Linked DNA regions of Homo sapiens: region 1 is linked to region 2. Evidence: fine-mapped QTL for protein levels in blood plasma. Region 2 holds a variant in brackets. A gene starts in the other region. All regions are shown on one strand. Distances are from middle to middle.

Region 1 (8,321 bases), 31 Mb after region 2:
GAGTCTGAGCATATCTGTAAGGGGCTGCTGCTGTCTATTATTAGGGCGGCCTCTTTAGCTTTGGCTCTACACCATGTGGCTTGAAGATTTTCCTTGAATTTGACCTGAGCCCCTGACCCCACCCACATTGCTGGGGAGGAGGGGCCCGTTCTGGACTCTGGCACCTGTAACTCCTGACCCCCGGTCTTGCTTGCAGCGGAAAAGGAGAGGCAGAAGAGGGAGGTGCACACTCAGCCACTCTGGGCATCCTTCCTGGGTGGACTGGGCCCCCTGCAGGGCCTGCTCTCACCTACCCAGGAGCACAGCTGATCTCGGCTGGGTCTCCCTCAGCACACTCAGGATGTGTGGGGCAGGTGTCTGCGAGTCCCCGGGGGACTCAGGTTCCTGGCCAGTCTCACTGCCCCCTGCCCCAGCATTGAGACCCTCATGTGGCTGCAGATGTGGCTGATAGTGCCAATCAAGGGAGCCTCTGTCTTCCCAAACTTAAATTTCCCCTCCCATAACCTATAACTTCAGCCCCCTCCATTTTCTGAGCTAAGCTCCAATTAGTGAAAACAAAGTCAAGTGGGAGTCAGGGGACAGGAAAGTGGCCCAGGGGTGGGGCAGAAGAGGGGGAAGGGACAAGTCTCTCTCGAATGGATCCAGAGTGAGCTCCTCCCTCTTGCGAGTAGCCATGCTGCCAAGACGCTGACCTTCAGATGCGCAAGGCTCATGTCTCCTCCCCAGCCCTGGGACCCTCTGGAGGCTGCAGGTCCTGATTGCTGTGCCAGTCACAGCAGGAACAGGCCCCAAAAACGTCACATCTCCAGGAAATAAGACCAAGGTTCCACCTAACCAGTTCAGCTCTCACCTCCCTCCCAAAATGTTCACAGGGGAAACCATGGGCCAAACTATGTAACATGAAATCTACAACCTTTTTGCCCTGACTCCAACCTGGTACTGCCACGAGCAAGTCAGGGTTTTGCGTTGACTGAGTGGGATTTGGGTCATCAATTCCAATCAGATTTCTGGAGAAGGCTCTTCTTTCCCTGATGATTGAGGTCTTCATTGCAGTCCTCTCGGTGGAAGGAGAGGCCTTCCTGGAAGTCCAAACAGTTCTCTTTTCCTCCCTCTGGCTAATTTCTTGTTCAGCTGAAGCAGAGCCTGCCTCGATGAGGGAGTTCCTATTAGGTTTCTTAATTTTTAAGAGACATCACCAGAAGTGAATTCCTCTGTAAATCAGCAGTGCTTTATTTTTCTGTTGCAGAATGAGTTTGTGATCCTGGTTTTCTACAATTCTTTAGCAAATGTGTTTTTGTAATCTCACGTTCAACCCTTCCTTTATTGATGTATCTAGCATGCTGAAAGGGAATCAGTTTCCCCTGCTATTCTCAAGACACTGGTTGAGGGAGGAGACTTCAATTCTTCACTACATCTCACTAATTTTACTCTGCAATTCATTATAGTCCAGGTAGTTAGATTAGTTCCAACTGTGCCAGGAAATTTTGAGGAATGAACAAAATTAGATTTTTTTTTCCTTTTTTTTTTAAAAGATGGGGTCTCACTATGTTGCCCAGGCTGGTCTTGAACCCTTGGGCTCAGACGATCCTGCCGTCTCTGCCTCTTACAGGCATGAGCCACTGTGCGTGGCTTCAATGTTAGATGTGTTCTTGGCAGCATGGTCTTCTAAGCCATCTGAGGCAGCACCATCTCTTTTGAGTTTCCTGGCATGTACCAGAGACCTTCCTGAAACTTTTCCTTAATGAGCTTTGGAAGGGCATTGGGATCTTGATCTTTCCCATCTGGTAATGAATTATTTTTAAAGAAATATTTAAGAAAAATTATTTAGAAGTGAAAGGATGTAGGAGACAGTCGGCCTGGTGTGATGTGAGAAAGACTGGACCTGGTGGTCATTGCTGGCTTTCAAGCTGGAAAGGGACCAGGAGTGAAAGAATGTGGGTTCTTCTATAGACTAGAAGAGGAAAGAAAAAGAACTCTTTTTCAGAGATTCCAAGGGGAACACAGCCTAGAGGACAACTTAATTTTAGCCTAGTGAGTCTCATTTTAGATTTCTGACCTCTAAGTCTGTAAGATAATAAATTTATTTATTTATTTATTTATTTAGAGACAAGGTCTCACTCTGTCACCCAGGCTGGAGTGCAGTGGCGTGATCTTCGCTCACTGCGGCCTCTTCCTCCTGGGTTCAAGCGATTCTCCTGCCTCAGCCTCCCAAGTAGCTGGGATTACAGGTGCATGCCACCATGTCTGGCTAATTTTTGTATTTTTAGTAGAGAGGGGGTTTCGCCATGTTAGCCAGGATGGTCTCGAACTCCTGACCTCAAGTGATCTGCCTGCCTTGACCTCCCAAAGTGCTGGGATCACAGATGGGAGCCACCGTGCCTGGCCGGTAACACATACTTTCCACCCTATATAAATGAAAACATGTTCACATGGAAACCTGTACACAAATGTTTATAGCAACTCTATTCACACTTGCCCCAAAGTACAAACAATCCAGATGTCCTTCCGTGGCTGAATGAACAAACTACAGTGCATCCATACAATGCAATGTGTCCACTGACACTTGTGACAACTTGGATGGAGCTCAAGAACATCATGCTGACCAAAAAAAGTCAGTCTCAAAGGTTACATACTGTATGATTCCATTTATATGACATCCTGAAAAAGGCTTAACTGTAGTGATGAACAGATAAGTGGTTGCCAGAAGTTATGGGTGAGGGTAGGGGTGGCTACAAAAGGGTAACGTGAAGGAGTGGTTTTTGGGTGACAGAAACATTCTGTATCTTAACTGCGTTTGTAGTTACACAAATCTGTTATAAAATTAATAAACTAGGCCAGATGCGGTAGCTCACACCTGTAATCCCAGCACTTTGGGAGGCCAAGGTGGGTCGATCACTTGAGGTCAGGAGTTCGAGACTAGCCTGGCCAACATGGTGAAACCCCATCTCTACTAAAATACAAAAATTAGCTAGGCGTGGTGATGCACGCCTGTAATCCCAGCTACTTGGGAGGCTGAGGCAGGAGAATCGCCTGAACCTGGGAGGTAAAGTTTGCAGTGAGCTGAGATCGCATCACTGCACTCCAGCCTGGGCCACAGAGGGAGACTCCCTCTCAAAAAAAAAAAATTTAATATACTGTACACCAAAAGGAAGTCAGTTTTGCTGTATATTGATTAAAAAATGCTACAACCAAAAAGGCAAATCAACAAAGCTTTATGAGTGTATAGGCACCTATGAATGTTGGGTTTTGAATGGAAAAAAAAAGTGACAGGAAATATACAATGTTTAATGCTGGTTACTTTGGAGGGGGCAAAAATGATTCAGTTTTTCAGTGTACGTTTTTGTATTGTTTTAATTATTTCAATTAGTATATAGTGATTTTGAAATTTGAGAAACATCTACTGAAAATGGAAAATATCTGGAAAAATATTTAAAAAGAGGAAAAAGAGTATTTCTGCTTTATTGGGTACCTGTTGACAGGGTAGTAAACAAGACAAATCCATCTCCATTCTTTTTTTTCTTTTGAGATGGAGTCTCGCCCTGTCACCCAGGCTGGAGTGCTGTGGTGTGATCTTGGCTCACTGCAACCTCTGCCTCCTGGGTTCAAGCGATTTTCGTGCCTCAGCCTCCCAAGTAGCTGAGACTACAGGTGCCCGCCACCACGCCCGGCTATTTATCTCCATTCTTATGGAGCACAGCGTGGTGGAGTTCAGTCCACACGCTTACAGGTGGCTTATCTGCAAAATGTGTCTAAAAAGAAATTTTATAGGATAAATATTTTGTACATGTTTGAAACAGTGCTTGGCACAAATGAATAAATGTAATGCAAGCTGCTATTAATACATCATCTCCGAATTGGGAGAATCATTGCGATCACATCGTTGTGATTACACAAAAGCCTCTGTCATGTAATAGGGCTCAGTAAACGTCAATTTCCATAGCATTTCGAGCCTGGATACTGAAATATGGGGCAAAAAGCAGGAACATGCCCCTGGTTTGGCTCTTGCCTTCTTGCATTTCCTGGGTTTCCTCATTTATCTTTTTTTTTTTTTTTTTTGGCCTTGTTATCTTTCTACCTTCAGGGAAGCCTCTCCCTTCTTCTCCTCCCTAGAATGACCTATCACCCTCCTTCAGGACCTAGATGCAGGGCGTTTCTATCTTAGGCTGACACTTGACTCCTTGCCTACATCTATAGCTTGGCACAGAGAGATTCACGCACCCTCAAGAGTGTGGGTGAGACATATACAGCCTGTTAGACCTGAAGGTGAGCCCAACCTGGGAAAATCGTGACCTCAGAGCAGGGCAGGATGTGAAAGGTTTTGGAAAGGAGATAGCCCTGCAGGGCAGGAGGGATTTTTAAGGGGAGGAAGTGGGTTGGGGGAAATACCCAGTGAGGAGGGAAACAGATATGTAAATTCTACCCTTTTCTCTACCCAGGCAGATGGCTCTTCTTAAGGCCAATAAGGATCTCATTTCCGCAGGATTGAAGGAGTTCAGCGTTCTGCTGAATCAGCAGGTGAGTCCAAGCTTTCCATTTCAAAGGACTGGCCTGGAGACTGGGGGGTGCCGGGGAAGTGGAGGAAGAGGATAATTGGAGCTGGTGAAGTAATGGTGGAGTTGATGGAAACAACGAGAGACACGGGATACAATGCAGAGGAAAGAGAATGTGAGAGTTGGTGCTGTGGCACTATTCTAGTATTCCCGAATCCCATTGCTGACCACATTCTCCCTTGCCAACTGCCTCTCCGCAACCCCCCAGGTCTTCAATGATCCTCTCGTCTCTGAAGAAGACATGGTGACTGTGGTGGAGGACTGGATGAACTTCTACATCAACTATTACAGGCAGCAGGTGACAGGGGAGCCCCAAGAGCGAGACAAGGCTCTGCAGGAGCTTCGGCAAGAGCTGAACACTCTGGCCAACCCTTTCCTGGCCAAGTACAGGGACTTCCTGAAGTCTCATGAGCTCCCGAGTCACCCACCGCCCTCCTCCTAGCTCAGGGACCCAGCCCCTCCTCTCTGAGAAACTCTGACCTTCATGTCCTTAGGCTGTGCTCCTGCCACTCTACCCTGACACCTCAATAAAGACCAGTGCTGGTTTTGTTGGACTTCCTGGCTTCTCTTTCATGGTCTGTCCTGACATGTGGAGGCACTCGGTCCCTTTCCTTCCGCCCTCCTTCTTAGATATGCTCTTGGAAGCTTAATTCCTTACAGCAGAGGTTAGCAGCCTTGAGTGACCACCGGGCAGCGATTCTAAACTAAAACAGGCTGAACGAGGGCCAGGAAGGCGGGACTAGAGAGAGTGCAGAGCTGCAGGGGAGGGGGTGGCAGAAACAAGAAAGGGGGATAGAAGTCCTCCAGACATTGTCCTGTGACCTGCTTGTCGAGGAGGAAACTGTTGGAAGTCTCCCAGTCTTGTTCATCCTGCGCCAGGTCCACCGCCTCGACTTTTCAATCCCCTGTCCTTAGCCCCAGCTCAAACTACATTCTAGGATCTTCGGACTCTGACTACCGCAAAATACCTCCCCGGAGCCCCAGGCATCGCAGGAATTTAGAGTTGGAAGGGATCCTGGGAACCCTTTAGCGCGCCCCTTATATTTCAGGAGGGGAAGCCACTTCCCTTTGGCTCCAACATCCCTGGGCGCAGATGCCAGGATTGGGAAGCAGAGGAATCCGCCTTCCCCCCACCCCAAGCTTCTCAGATCAATTCCCGGTCTAGCTCCCTTTCTCCCAGACCTCCAGACTCGAAGCCTCTATTTTAGGGCTCTGGGCGGAACCAGGGACGGGCCAGACTCAAGAGCTTTTTAAAAACGAAATGAAGGTGTTAGACCCGCGGCGCAGTCTCCAGGAAAAGCCTCCACGCGCAGAGGGGAGGGCCCTCCGGGGGAGGGTGCGCGGGGCGGGGGCGCGCGGGGGGAGGGGGTTCCCGGGGTGCTGAGCGGGGGCGGGGGTGCGCGGGGCGGGGGCGCGGCTAGGAGGCGCCGCACAGCAATCAGACGCGGCTCAGGGTGCGCGCGGGGAGCTGGAGGGCGCAGTTCTGGACCTTTTCGGTGTTCTCTCTAACGCGGGAAAAGTTTGGGGCCCAGAGGGATTGCTCCTCGTTCCAACCTCCAGCAAGCTTTCCTCTGGGACTTGTGAACCGACTGTTGTTTTGTAGGTCTCTGCAGCCTGGATCAGGGTGGAAAGGGAACCCGCTCAGTGTCCCCAGCGGTGCTTCCAACCCTGGGGTGTGGTCGGCCCTAGATCCAGCTTGGGAGAGTGGCGCCTCCCAGGGAAGCAGGCGGCGAGCTCCTCTGGGTTGGGGTCGGTGGTCCAGGCAGAGTCTGGGGCCTTCTCCACGGCACCTCTCAGGAAATCTCAGTCTGTGAGTGAGGACCAGAGCCCGCTCAGGCGGGACAGTAGTCGGCAGCCTCACCTTTGCAAGAGAGACCTGGCCTGGTGTGTGTGGGTGGAGGAAAGTGAGTGGGGGACGCTAGGAGAGCGCACAGCACAACGCTCCGGTGCCTTATGCAGAATGGCGAAATGTTTGCATGTAACCCACGCACATCTCTTCGTGGACTTCACATCATGGCTAGATTACTTACAATACCGACTACAACGTCAATGCTGTGCAAATAGTTGTTACACTGTATTATTTAGGGAGTAACGACAAGAAAAAAAGCCTGTACATGTTCAGTACAGAGGCAACCATCCATTTTTCTCCCCAAATATTTTCCATCCTTGGTTGGTTGAATCCACAGATGCGGAACCCACAGATACGGAGGGACCACTGTATTTGTCTTTCAGCTTAGCTGAAAAGAATGTTAGAAGCCGCTTTGGCTCAATTCATGAAGAGGAATTTTCCATACCTTTATAACTATCCAGCTATGGGAGCTGCTGAGCTAAGCACTTCTCAGGTGCTCAAAGGAAAATGACCAATTACAGGTGTAAGGTAGAAAAGATTCTCACTGGGAAGTTCAACATTGAAACTCCATTCCGACCATTCCATAAGCTTGTGCAATTGAGAAGCTGCAAAAAATATTTTTAAGACAGAAAAATCTGTTACCTGCACTTTCTGCTCTCATATTACTATCAACGAAGTGACTGGTTATAAATCTACAAGAAGTAAAATTGGGGATATTTTGATTTTTCAGAGACGGTGATATGAACCTGATGGTTCATAATAATAAAAATAAAATAACTAAAGCAGAGAGTGCCCCAAATCCATTACTGTTCCTGAAGGAAAATAAATTAGAATTAGTAAGAATAACCTTCTTTTGCTTAGCAGTATCTGAATTAATACTAGAAATAAGATTGTAAATAAATGGTAAAACATTATAGCCATAACCCTGCCCTTATCCTCACCCTCATATTGAACCTGACCTAGAGCTGACCCTGAACTTGAGCCTCACCTCTAGCTTCATCTTGCCCCTGATCATAATGGACACCTTGCCCTCACAATGACCCTGACTCTCACACTGACATTGCCTCTCATTCTCATTCTTATACTGATCCTGATGCTGAATTGGACCCTAAACTTTACCTGATCCTAATTTTCACCCTGTCTCTGACCCTCAACCTGAATCCTACCCTGACCCTTACCCTGAAATTGACCTTCACTGACCCTTCCCTTAGCATGATGTTGACTCTGACCCTCACTATGACCCTGACCCTTGATCCTCAACTTGACCTAGACAGTGATCATAATTATGACTTTTTTTTTTTTTAAAGAGGCAGGGTCTTGCTCTGTCACCCAGGCTGTAGTGCAGTGGTGCCAGCATGGCTCACAGCAACTTTGACCTCCAGAGCTCAAGCGATCCTCCTACCTCAGCTTCCTGAGTAGCTGGGACCACAGGTGCATGCCACTATGCCTGGCTATTTTTTTTTGTATTTTTTGTAGAGATGGGGTCTCACTATGTTGTCCATGCTGGTCTTGAACCCCTGGCCTCAAGCAAGCCTCCCACCTTAGCCTCCCAAAGCACTGGGACTACAGGTGTGAGCCACTGCACCTGGCCTTTAACCATGACTCTTGACCCTGAAGCATACACTCTCACCTTGACTCTGACCTTGCTCTCGTTCTGACACCACCCCCTCCTTCACACCTGAGCCTTACCCTGGTGCTCACTCTCACCTTGCATCTGACTGTGACACTCACCAGACCCTGATCCTGACTGTCACTTACACACTCTATCTCGTTCTCACCCTGACCCTGATTCTGTACTTGACCCGGACCCTCACTTTTGCCTTCAGTTTTAGCATCACCCTTAATCCCAACCGAACATTGAAGCTAACCCTACAGTGGCACTCAACTTGACCCTCCCCTGGCCTGGAAATCTTAATGTCACC
Region 2 (8,294 bases):
GGTGCCCTGGACGGCTTGTGGGGCACAGGCTGTGAGAGGTGCCCAGGACGGCTTGTGGGGCACAGGCTGTGAGGGTGCCCGGGACGGCTTGTGGGGCACAGGTTGTGAGAGGTGCCCGGGACGGCTTGTGGGGCACAGGTTTCAGAGGTGCCCGGGACGGCTTGTGGGGCACAGGTTGTGAGAGGTGCCCGGGACGGCTTGTGGGACACAGGTTGTGAGAGGTGCCTGGGACGGCTTGTGGGGCACAGGCTGTGAGGGTGCCTGGGACGGCTTGTGGGGCACAGGTTGTGAGAGGTGCCCGGGTCGGCTTGTGGGGCACAGGTTGTGAGAGGTGCCCGGGACGGCTTGTGGGGCACAGGTTGTGAGACGTGCCCGGGACGGCTTGTGGGGCACAGGCTGTGAGGGTGCCCGGGTCGGCTTGTGGGGCACAGGCTGCAAGAGGTGCCCGGGACGGCTTGTGGGGCACAGGCTGTGAGGGTGCCCGGGACGGCTTGTGGGGCACAGGCTGTGAGGGTGCCCGGGACAGCTCGTGGGGCACAGGTTGTGAGAGGTGCCCGGGACGGCTTGTGGGGCACAGGCTGTGAGGGTGCCTGGGACGGCTTGTGGGGCACAGGTTGTGAGAGGTGCCCGGGACGGCTTGTGGGGCACAGGTTGTGAGGATGCCCGGGATGGCTTGTGGGGCACAGGTTGTGAGAGGTGCCTGGGACGGCTTGTGGGGCACAGGCTGTGAGGGTGCCCGGGACGGCTTGTGGGGCACAGGCTGTGAGAGGTGCCTGGGACGGCTTGTGGGGCACAGGCTGTGAGGATGCCCGGGACGGCTTGTGGGGCACAGGTTGTGAGGGGTGCCCAGGACGGCTTGTGGGGCACAGGCTGCAAGAGGTGCCCAGGACGGCTTGTGGGGCACAGGTTGTGAGAGGTGCCCGGGACGGCTTGTGGGGCACAGGCTGTGAGGGAGCCCGGCACGGCTTGCAGCTACAGGGAGAAAAGACTTGGTGCTGTGGGCCTGCCTTGGGGCTGGTGGTACAGCCCTTATCTGCTGCCCTCAGGATCTCCCGGCCCCTCTCGTCCAGGCCCCTGCAACCCCATGCCCCAGCCTCTGAGGACCAAAGGCGCCCCTGCTTGGGAAGAGGGGGCTCAGGGGAGTCGCCTGACCCGGTTCCAAGCCAGGCTGATTTACCGTTGCTAACATCCTAT[C/T]GCACGCATCCCTCTGCCTCATGCACCCAACCCCAAGGCCTGGTACACTGCAGGCCCCAAGGTCCTGTGCGTCCTTTCAATACCCTCCTCACCTGCCTCACCTGCCCCCCCTACCCTGACTCTGGCTGGAGACCCCCTCCAGGGAGTTTTCAAAACAAAGGGTGTCAGTCTCCTGTGGGATTCCCTCACCTCTGCAGCCTGCGGTCTGAAAGCTGCCCCATGGTGTGTAGTGCTAAACTTCCAACTTACTCCAGGCCAGCGGTGACAGCCCGAGGGCAGGAAGGGCACCCACACTGAGCCTCAAACAGCTAATTTTGCAACTGTAAGTCCATATAATTGTCTTGAAAAGTAATTTGTTTCAAAAAGCTAAAAAACGAATACTCTTGAGTCTCCTTCTAGTAATTCCCCTTCTAGAGGTCTATCACCAGGAAAAGATCCAAAGCACTGATATTCTTCATGGAGTTGTTTATAATAGAAAAAAACTAGAGCTTGTTCACAAAGGGGAGCTCTGCAGGCTGAAGATGTTGCACCTGTCAGCGGGGATGGGGGCACGCTTGCTGACGCAGCAACGGAAAAGCATCAGTGTGTGAAGATGCATTTTCTCTCTTTCTATTATTATTATTTTTATTTTTATTTTTTCTGAGGCAGAACCTCGCTCTGTCACCCAGGCTGGAGTGCAGTGATGCGACCTCATCACAACCACGAGCCACCATGTGCGGCCCCATGAGCAAGCCACCACGCCCAGCCTTTTTTTCCCTTGTTTTAAAAAATCCTCTATTTAAAAAAGATGTGCATGGGCCGGGCACGGTGGTTCACGCTCATAATCCCAGCTCTTTCAGAGGCCGAGGCAGGCAGATCACCTGAGGTCAAGAGTTCGACACCAGCCTGGCCAACATGGTGAAATTCCATCTGTACTAAAAATACAAAAATTAGCCAGGCCGTGGTGGTGTGTGCCTGTAATCCCAGCTACTCAGGAGACTGAAGCAGGAGAATCACTTGAACCCAGGAGGCAGAGGTTGCAGTGGGTCAAAATCATGCCACCACACTCCAGTCTGGGAGACAGAGCAAGACTCCATCTCAGAAACAAACTAACAAACAAAATTTTTATATCTACCTATAATTCGTATAAATTTAAAATACATGCATAAAATCATACCCTTTGCAAGCACACGTACTAACTAAAAGGAATATATTCAGCACATAGAAATGGTTGTCTAACGGAGGAGGGGGGAGTTAATAAACAGAGAGGATAAAAAGAAATAAATCAGTAGAGCTGGAGGAGGGTCTCCTCCAGGCTGCGATGAGAACATAGTGAGCAGAATTGCAGGCCTGCATGACCTCACCTTCTGTGAGGAGTCCGGCCTCCCAAGACGCTTTCCTGCCTAGGTGCCCGGCTCAGAGTGTCCCCTACAAGGCTACTGGAGGAGAACCCCAGACCGAGCCTCATTCAGGTGAGGGGGCTGCACACCGGAGGTGGGAGAGGTCTGTCCCTTCCCACCCTGTGACACTGGGTCCCACTTTCTCTCTAGGGGGTCTCGGTTTCCTCATTTGCAAACTGGAGCTCATAAGGTGGGCCAGAGAAGTTTCAGTGAAGTGAGGAATGGATCGTCCCTCTGCCAGGGCCCATGTGCTCTAGGTCACCCTGTCATCACAGGGACAGGGAGGTCAAGGACAGTCACTCCTGAGGCCAGTCCGGGCTGGGCTGACCACGTGGACTCTCATGCCCAGATTGGGGCCCCAATCTCCCTGAAGCTGGGGCTCCAGCTGTGACTCAGGGGTGGGCAGAAGGGGAGACAGAAGCGATAGGTTCCTCAGCCCCCAGTCCCACCTGAGGGCCCCTTTGTCACTGGATCTGATAAGAAACACCACCCCTGCAGCCCCCTCCCCTCACCTGACCAATGGCCACAGCCTGGCTGGGCCCAGCTCCCTGTATATAAGGGGACCCTGGGGGCTGAGCACTACCAAGGCCAGTCCTGAGCAGGCCCAACTCCAGTGCAGCCGCCCACCCTGCCGCCATGTCTCTGACCAAGACTTAGGGGACCATCATTGTGTCCATGTGGGCCAAGATCTCCACGCAGGCCGACACCATCGGCACCGAGACTCTGGAGAGGTGAGTGTCAGATGGGACTGCCAGAGGGACTGGGTGGGAGGCCAGGTATGTGAGTGGGGACAGTGGGGAGCGGGCAGTGGGGAGGGGACCGTGGGGAGGGGACAGTGAGTAGGAGACAGTGGGGAGAGGACAGTGGAGAGGGGACAGTGAGGAGGGGACCATGGGAAGGGGACCGTGGAGTGGGGACAGTGAGGAGGGGACCATAGGGAGGGGACAGTGGGGAGGGGACAGTGAGGAGGGGACCGTGGGGAGGGGACAGTGAGGAGGGGACCGTGGGGAGGAGACAGTGAGGAGGGGACCGTAGGGAGGGGACAGTGAGGAGGGGACCGTGGGGAGGGGACAGTGAGGAGGGGACCGTGGGGAGGGGACAGTGAGGAGGGGACCGTGGGAAGGAGACAGTGAGGAGGGGACCTTGGGGAGGGGACAGTGAGGAGGGGACCATGGGGAGGGGACAGTGAGGAGGGGACAATGGAGAGGGGACAGTGAGGAGGGGACTGTGGGGAGAGGACAGTGAGGAGGGGACCATGGGGAGGGCACAGTGGGGAGGGGAGAGTGAGGAAGGGACAGTGAGGAGGGGACTGTGGGGAGGGGACAGTGGAGACAGATAGCCTTCCCTCTCAGTGAGGAGGGCAGGGTAAGGAGGGAACGATTAGGAGTTGCACAACCATCTGGGCTCGCTGAGACCTGGGCAGGCACAGGCCCAGGTTCTGACAAGCAGAGGGTGAAAGGTTTCGTTCTAGGCCTGAAGGGCCTTACAGGGCAGCCAGGGCACTACAGCCTCTAAAGTCCCAGCATCTGGGATCAGGGCACTGTCCCAGCTTCAAATTCCCAGCATCTGATCCCCTGGGAGGGGCCAGGGAGCTTTTCCTTCCCTGGAACGCTGCTGGGAGGTCATGAGCCTGCAGAAGGGGTGGCGGGCAACCCAGTCTGGGGCTGGGAGGGAGGTCCTGTGGCCAGAGGAGACGGTGGAGGGGCTGGGGGCACCAGGCGTGCTGGAGGCGGAGGGCGGGAGATTTGGGGACCAGGCTGCACAGAACCCGTCGGAAGCAGGGCGATCAGCCGGGAGCTGCAGAGGCCTGGGGGGCCTCTAGCCCAGGGCAGCCTGGGAGGGGCAGCTGCCTGGGCACCCGGGCCCCGCGAGGAGGGGCTGGGGCCTGCTGCGGGGTCGCAGATGTGTCCCGGTGCTCGGAGAGGGCCGCAGGGCGCGTGGGCCGTGGCGGGAGGCCGCGCTGCTGGGAGCTCACGGCCCCCGCCCCCCGTCCCAGGCTCTTCCTCAGCCACCCGCAGACCAAGACCTACTTCCCGCACTTCGACCTGCACCCGGGGTCCGCGCAGTTGCGCGCGCACGGCTCCAAGGTGGTGGCCGCCGTGGGCGACGCGGTGAAGAGCATCGACGACATCGGCGGCGCCCTGTCCAAGCTGAGCGAGCTGCACGCCTACATCCTGCGCGTGGACCCGGTCAACTTCAAGGTGCGCGGGGCGCGGTGCGGGCGGGGCGGGGCGGGGCCGCGGGGCGGGCGGGGCCGCGGGGCGGGGTCGCGGGGCGGGGCGGGGTGGGGTCGCGGGGCGGGGCGGGGTCGCGGGGCGGGGCGGGGCGGGGCGGGGCGGGCGGGGCGGCCGGGGCCCGGCGGGGCGGGGCGGGGCGGGGAGGGGCTGGGCGGGGCGGGGCGCGGGGCGGGGCGGGCCGGGCCGGGGCGGGGTCGCGGGGCGGGGTCGCGGGGCGGGGCGCGGGGCGGGGCGGGGCGGGGTGGGGTCGCGGGGCGGGGCCCGGGCTAGGCCCCGCCCCCGCACTGAGCCGCCCCCGCCCCCAGCTCCTGTCCCACTGCCTGCTGGTCACCCTGGCCGCGCGCTTCCCCGCCGACTTCACGGCCGAGGCCCACGCCGCCTGGGCCAAGTTCCTATCGGTCGTATCCTCTGTCCTGACCGAGAAGTACCGCTGAGCGCCGCCTCCGGGACCCCCAGGACAGGCTGCGGCCCCTCCCCTGCCCTTCACCCTCCCACAGTTCCTGCCCTGACTCCAATAAATGGATGAGGACGGAGCGATCTGGGCTCTGTGTTCTCAGTATTGGAGGGAAGGAGGGGAGAAGCTGAGTGATGGGTCCGGGGGCTTCGCAGGAACTCGGTCGTCCCCACTGTCGTCGCGGCCTGGGGTTCACTTGGGGGGCGCCTTGGGGAGGTTCTAGCCCCTGAGCACCGGAGCTGCGGCCCGGGTGGAGCGGAGCAGTCCCGGGCCGGCCCGCGGCGTCTCCTGGGGTCCTTGAGTCGGACGGGCGTTTGTGCGTCTCCCGGCTTCCCATATCGCACAAAGATTGTCACTTCACTAAGCGTATTGGAAGCGTGTCGGGGCTCAGGGAACTTTTCCACAAAGCCTGACGTCCGAATCCCGGGACTCTGGCAGCTACGGGGGTCCCTGAGGCCGGTCCCTCCCCGACTCCTAAGAGAGTAGGGGGTTTCCTGCCCGGTGTTCTCTCTCCGGTTCCTCCCATGTGCTCCCTCCTGGCAGAGCAGTAACTTTACCCGAGGGGAGTAAACAGATGCCCCTAAAGTCTGCAGTAAAGGTGCCCACGCGCAACGGCGTGGGTCAATGCCAGAAACCCTGGGATCCCGGAGGTCGAGGCCTCCACACAGACGGGAACCCGGGCTGGTTACGTTCCCCGGCGCAGGCCGAGGGTCCCCGCGTTCCCGCCGCGCTCGGGCCGATAAGGACGGGCGGGGTGCCCGGAGGCTCTATAAGGAGGCCAGGGCGGCGGGCGCGGCCCCCAGAGCACGTCAGGCGGCGCCATGCTCAGCGCCCAGGAGCGCGCCCAAATCGCGCAGGTCTGGGACCTGATTGCGGGCCACGAGGCGCAATTCGGGGCGGAGCTGCTGCTCAGGTCGGTAGAGGCGGGGTCTCCGGGAGCTCAGGGAGGTGGAGATGAGGGTTTTGGGCGCGTGGGCCGCCAACGCCATCCAAGGTCCTTCGGGTGCGGATCCCCGGGCTCTGGGCGGTGTGGGCGCTAGTGAAGCCCCACGCAGCCGCCCTCCTCCCCGGTCACTGACCTGGTCCTGCAGGCTCTTCACGGTGTACCCCAGCACCAAGGTCTACTTCCCGCACCTGAGCGCCTGCCAGGACGCGACGCAGCTGCTGAGCCACGGGCAGCGCATGCTGGCGGCTGTGGGCGCGGCGGTGCAGCACGTGGACAACCTGCGCGCCGCGCTGAGCCCGCTGGCGGACCTGCACGCGCTCGTGCTGCGCGTGGACCCAGCCAACTTTCCGGTGAGGCCTTTCCGGCCGGGGCAATGGTGCAGCGCGCAGCCGGGGTGGGGGGGCTCTGGGGGTCCCTAGCGGGGCAGACCCCGTCTCACCGGCCCCTTCTCCTGCAGCTGCTAATCCAGTGTTTCCACGTCGTGCTGGCCTCCCACCTGCAGGACGAGTTCACCGTGCAAATGCAAGCGGCGTGGGACAAGTTCCTGACTGGTGTGGCCGTGGTGCTGACCGAAAAATACCGCTGAGCCCTGTGCTGCGCAGGCCTTGGTCTGTGCCTGTCAATAAACAGAGGCCCGAACCATCTGCCCCTGCCTGTGTGGTCTTTGGGGAGCTAGCAAAGCGAGGTCACTATTGTTGGCCAGTGAAGCTCAGGGACCTAAAAGGAGCCTCCTAGAACTCTCAAATGCGCCCCACCCCCGGAGGTTTGTCCTCCCATGGCGAGGAGTGCGATGGGGCAGAGGGAGCACTGTGATGTGGCGGGGGTAGGGAGGGTGGCCTTCGACTTCAACCCTTGAATCGGGCTTCCAACCATACTGTTCGCAAAGCACTTCCCCATTCACGCATTTATTCATTCATTCTCCCTCCATCCCCACTTCCTGCTGGGACCTGTAGATGCTAATCCTGGCCCTTTTTGCAGAGAGATGCAGAAACTGAGGTCCCAGAGCCAAATGTGCAACCTAATTCGTTGGCCCAGAGCAGAGGGCTCCGCAGACCTGTTCCTTTCCCCTTCCTTCCCCCATGGACACTTCCTCAGTGGCAAACCTGCGCTAGCCTGGTTAGCCCTCCCTGTGACCCTGCAGCCCTGGGGATGAGGTCGGGAGGAAGTCCTCAGTGGCCACAATTTGGCAGACAGAGCAGGTTTAGTCTTCCAGCCTGCTCAATGACAAGCTGTGCGACCCTGGGCGTGTCCCAGAGCTCTCAGGCCTTTACCTATCGAATAGAAAAACAACGTCCAACTCACGAGATTTTTGAAATAATTTTTGAAATCATAACACAGGGTGGGTGCCTGCAGGGTCGTTGCCACCCCACCCCTCCACCCAGCCCCAGCTGCCGTGTCTCAATCTCTGCAGGTGCCCAGGCCAAGGCACTCCCTTCCCCAGGTTCCCTCTTCTCCCTCCCCAGGACTGGGAAGGGAATCTTAGGGCTCCACCCCAGGCTTTTCAGACAAAGAATAGGGGCTGAGGAAAGAGTGGGACCTTGGAGGTCTCCAAACCCTGAATAGGGTTGGCTCTGGGTTGGCCATCCTGGGTCTGTGTGGGGAGCACTGGACCAGGCCTGGCACCCAGGTCTGACCTGGCAGTCAGCAACGAGGTCTGAAGAGAGCTGCTGGAAGTGGAGCCCTGACTGTGAGTCGGCCAAACTCCCCCCAGCAGTCAGTGCCAGTGACCTGTTGCCCTGCACTGCCTGGGACCCCAGCCCGGTAGTTTGGAGAACTTGGCCCCACGTTATCTACATCCCCCAACTGTTTTTTTGTTTTTGGGGGTTTTTTTTTTTTTTGCTTTGTTTTTGTTTTTGAGATAGGCCCTTGCTCTGACACCCCGGCTGGAGTGCAGTGGCACAGTTTTGGCTCACTGCAGCCTCAACCTCCTGGGTTCAAGCGATTCTCCTGCCTCTGTCTCCCGTGTAGCTGGGATTACAGGCATGGGCCGCCATTCCTGGCTAATTTTTGTATTTTTAATAGAGACACAGTTTCACCATGTTGATCAGGCTGGTCTCAAACTCCTGACCTCAAGTGATCTGCCC

Direction of the effects. Alleles are on the strand shown, and positions count from the first base shown. The strength of an association depends on the size of the effect and on how common the allele is.
For the plasma level of the protein whose gene starts at base 4,201 in region 1, T is the high allele of the variant in region 2 and C is the other (weak association).

The links. PIP is the posterior inclusion probability: the model's chance that the variant is causal. Protein levels are from antibody-based Olink assays in UK Biobank. Linkage for the fine-mapping came from a reference panel and not from the study's own genotypes, which makes the PIPs less certain.
Region 1: AHSP starts here. The variant in region 2 is fine-mapped to the plasma level of the AHSP protein (UK Biobank, PIP 0.93).

What each region holds. Positions count from the first base shown.
Region 1 is chr16:31,523,700-31,532,020 of GRCh38, forward strand. AHSP (alpha hemoglobin stabilizing protein) reads left to right here and starts at 4,201. Exons shown (of 3, transcript NM_016633.4): 1 at 4,201-4,263; 2 at 4,437-4,515; 3 at 4,759-5,104. The coding sequence starts at 4,441. The coding sequence ends at 4,992.
Region 2 is chr16:159,913-168,206 of GRCh38, forward strand. HBM (hemoglobin subunit mu) reads left to right here and starts at 6,066. Exons shown (of 3, transcript NM_001003938.4): 1 at 6,066-6,177; 2 at 6,356-6,560; 3 at 6,668-6,852. The coding sequence starts at 6,086. The coding sequence ends at 6,796. It overlaps LOC107983982 (a long non-coding RNA gene), which reads left to right and starts at 1,035. Exons shown (of 3, transcript XR_001752047.1): 1 at 1,035-1,516; 2 at 2,581-2,645; 3 at 2,724-3,009. It also overlaps the pseudogene HBZP1. RefSeq lists an enhancer at 3,873-4,373. The variant C/T (reference allele first, on the strand shown) is at 1,195.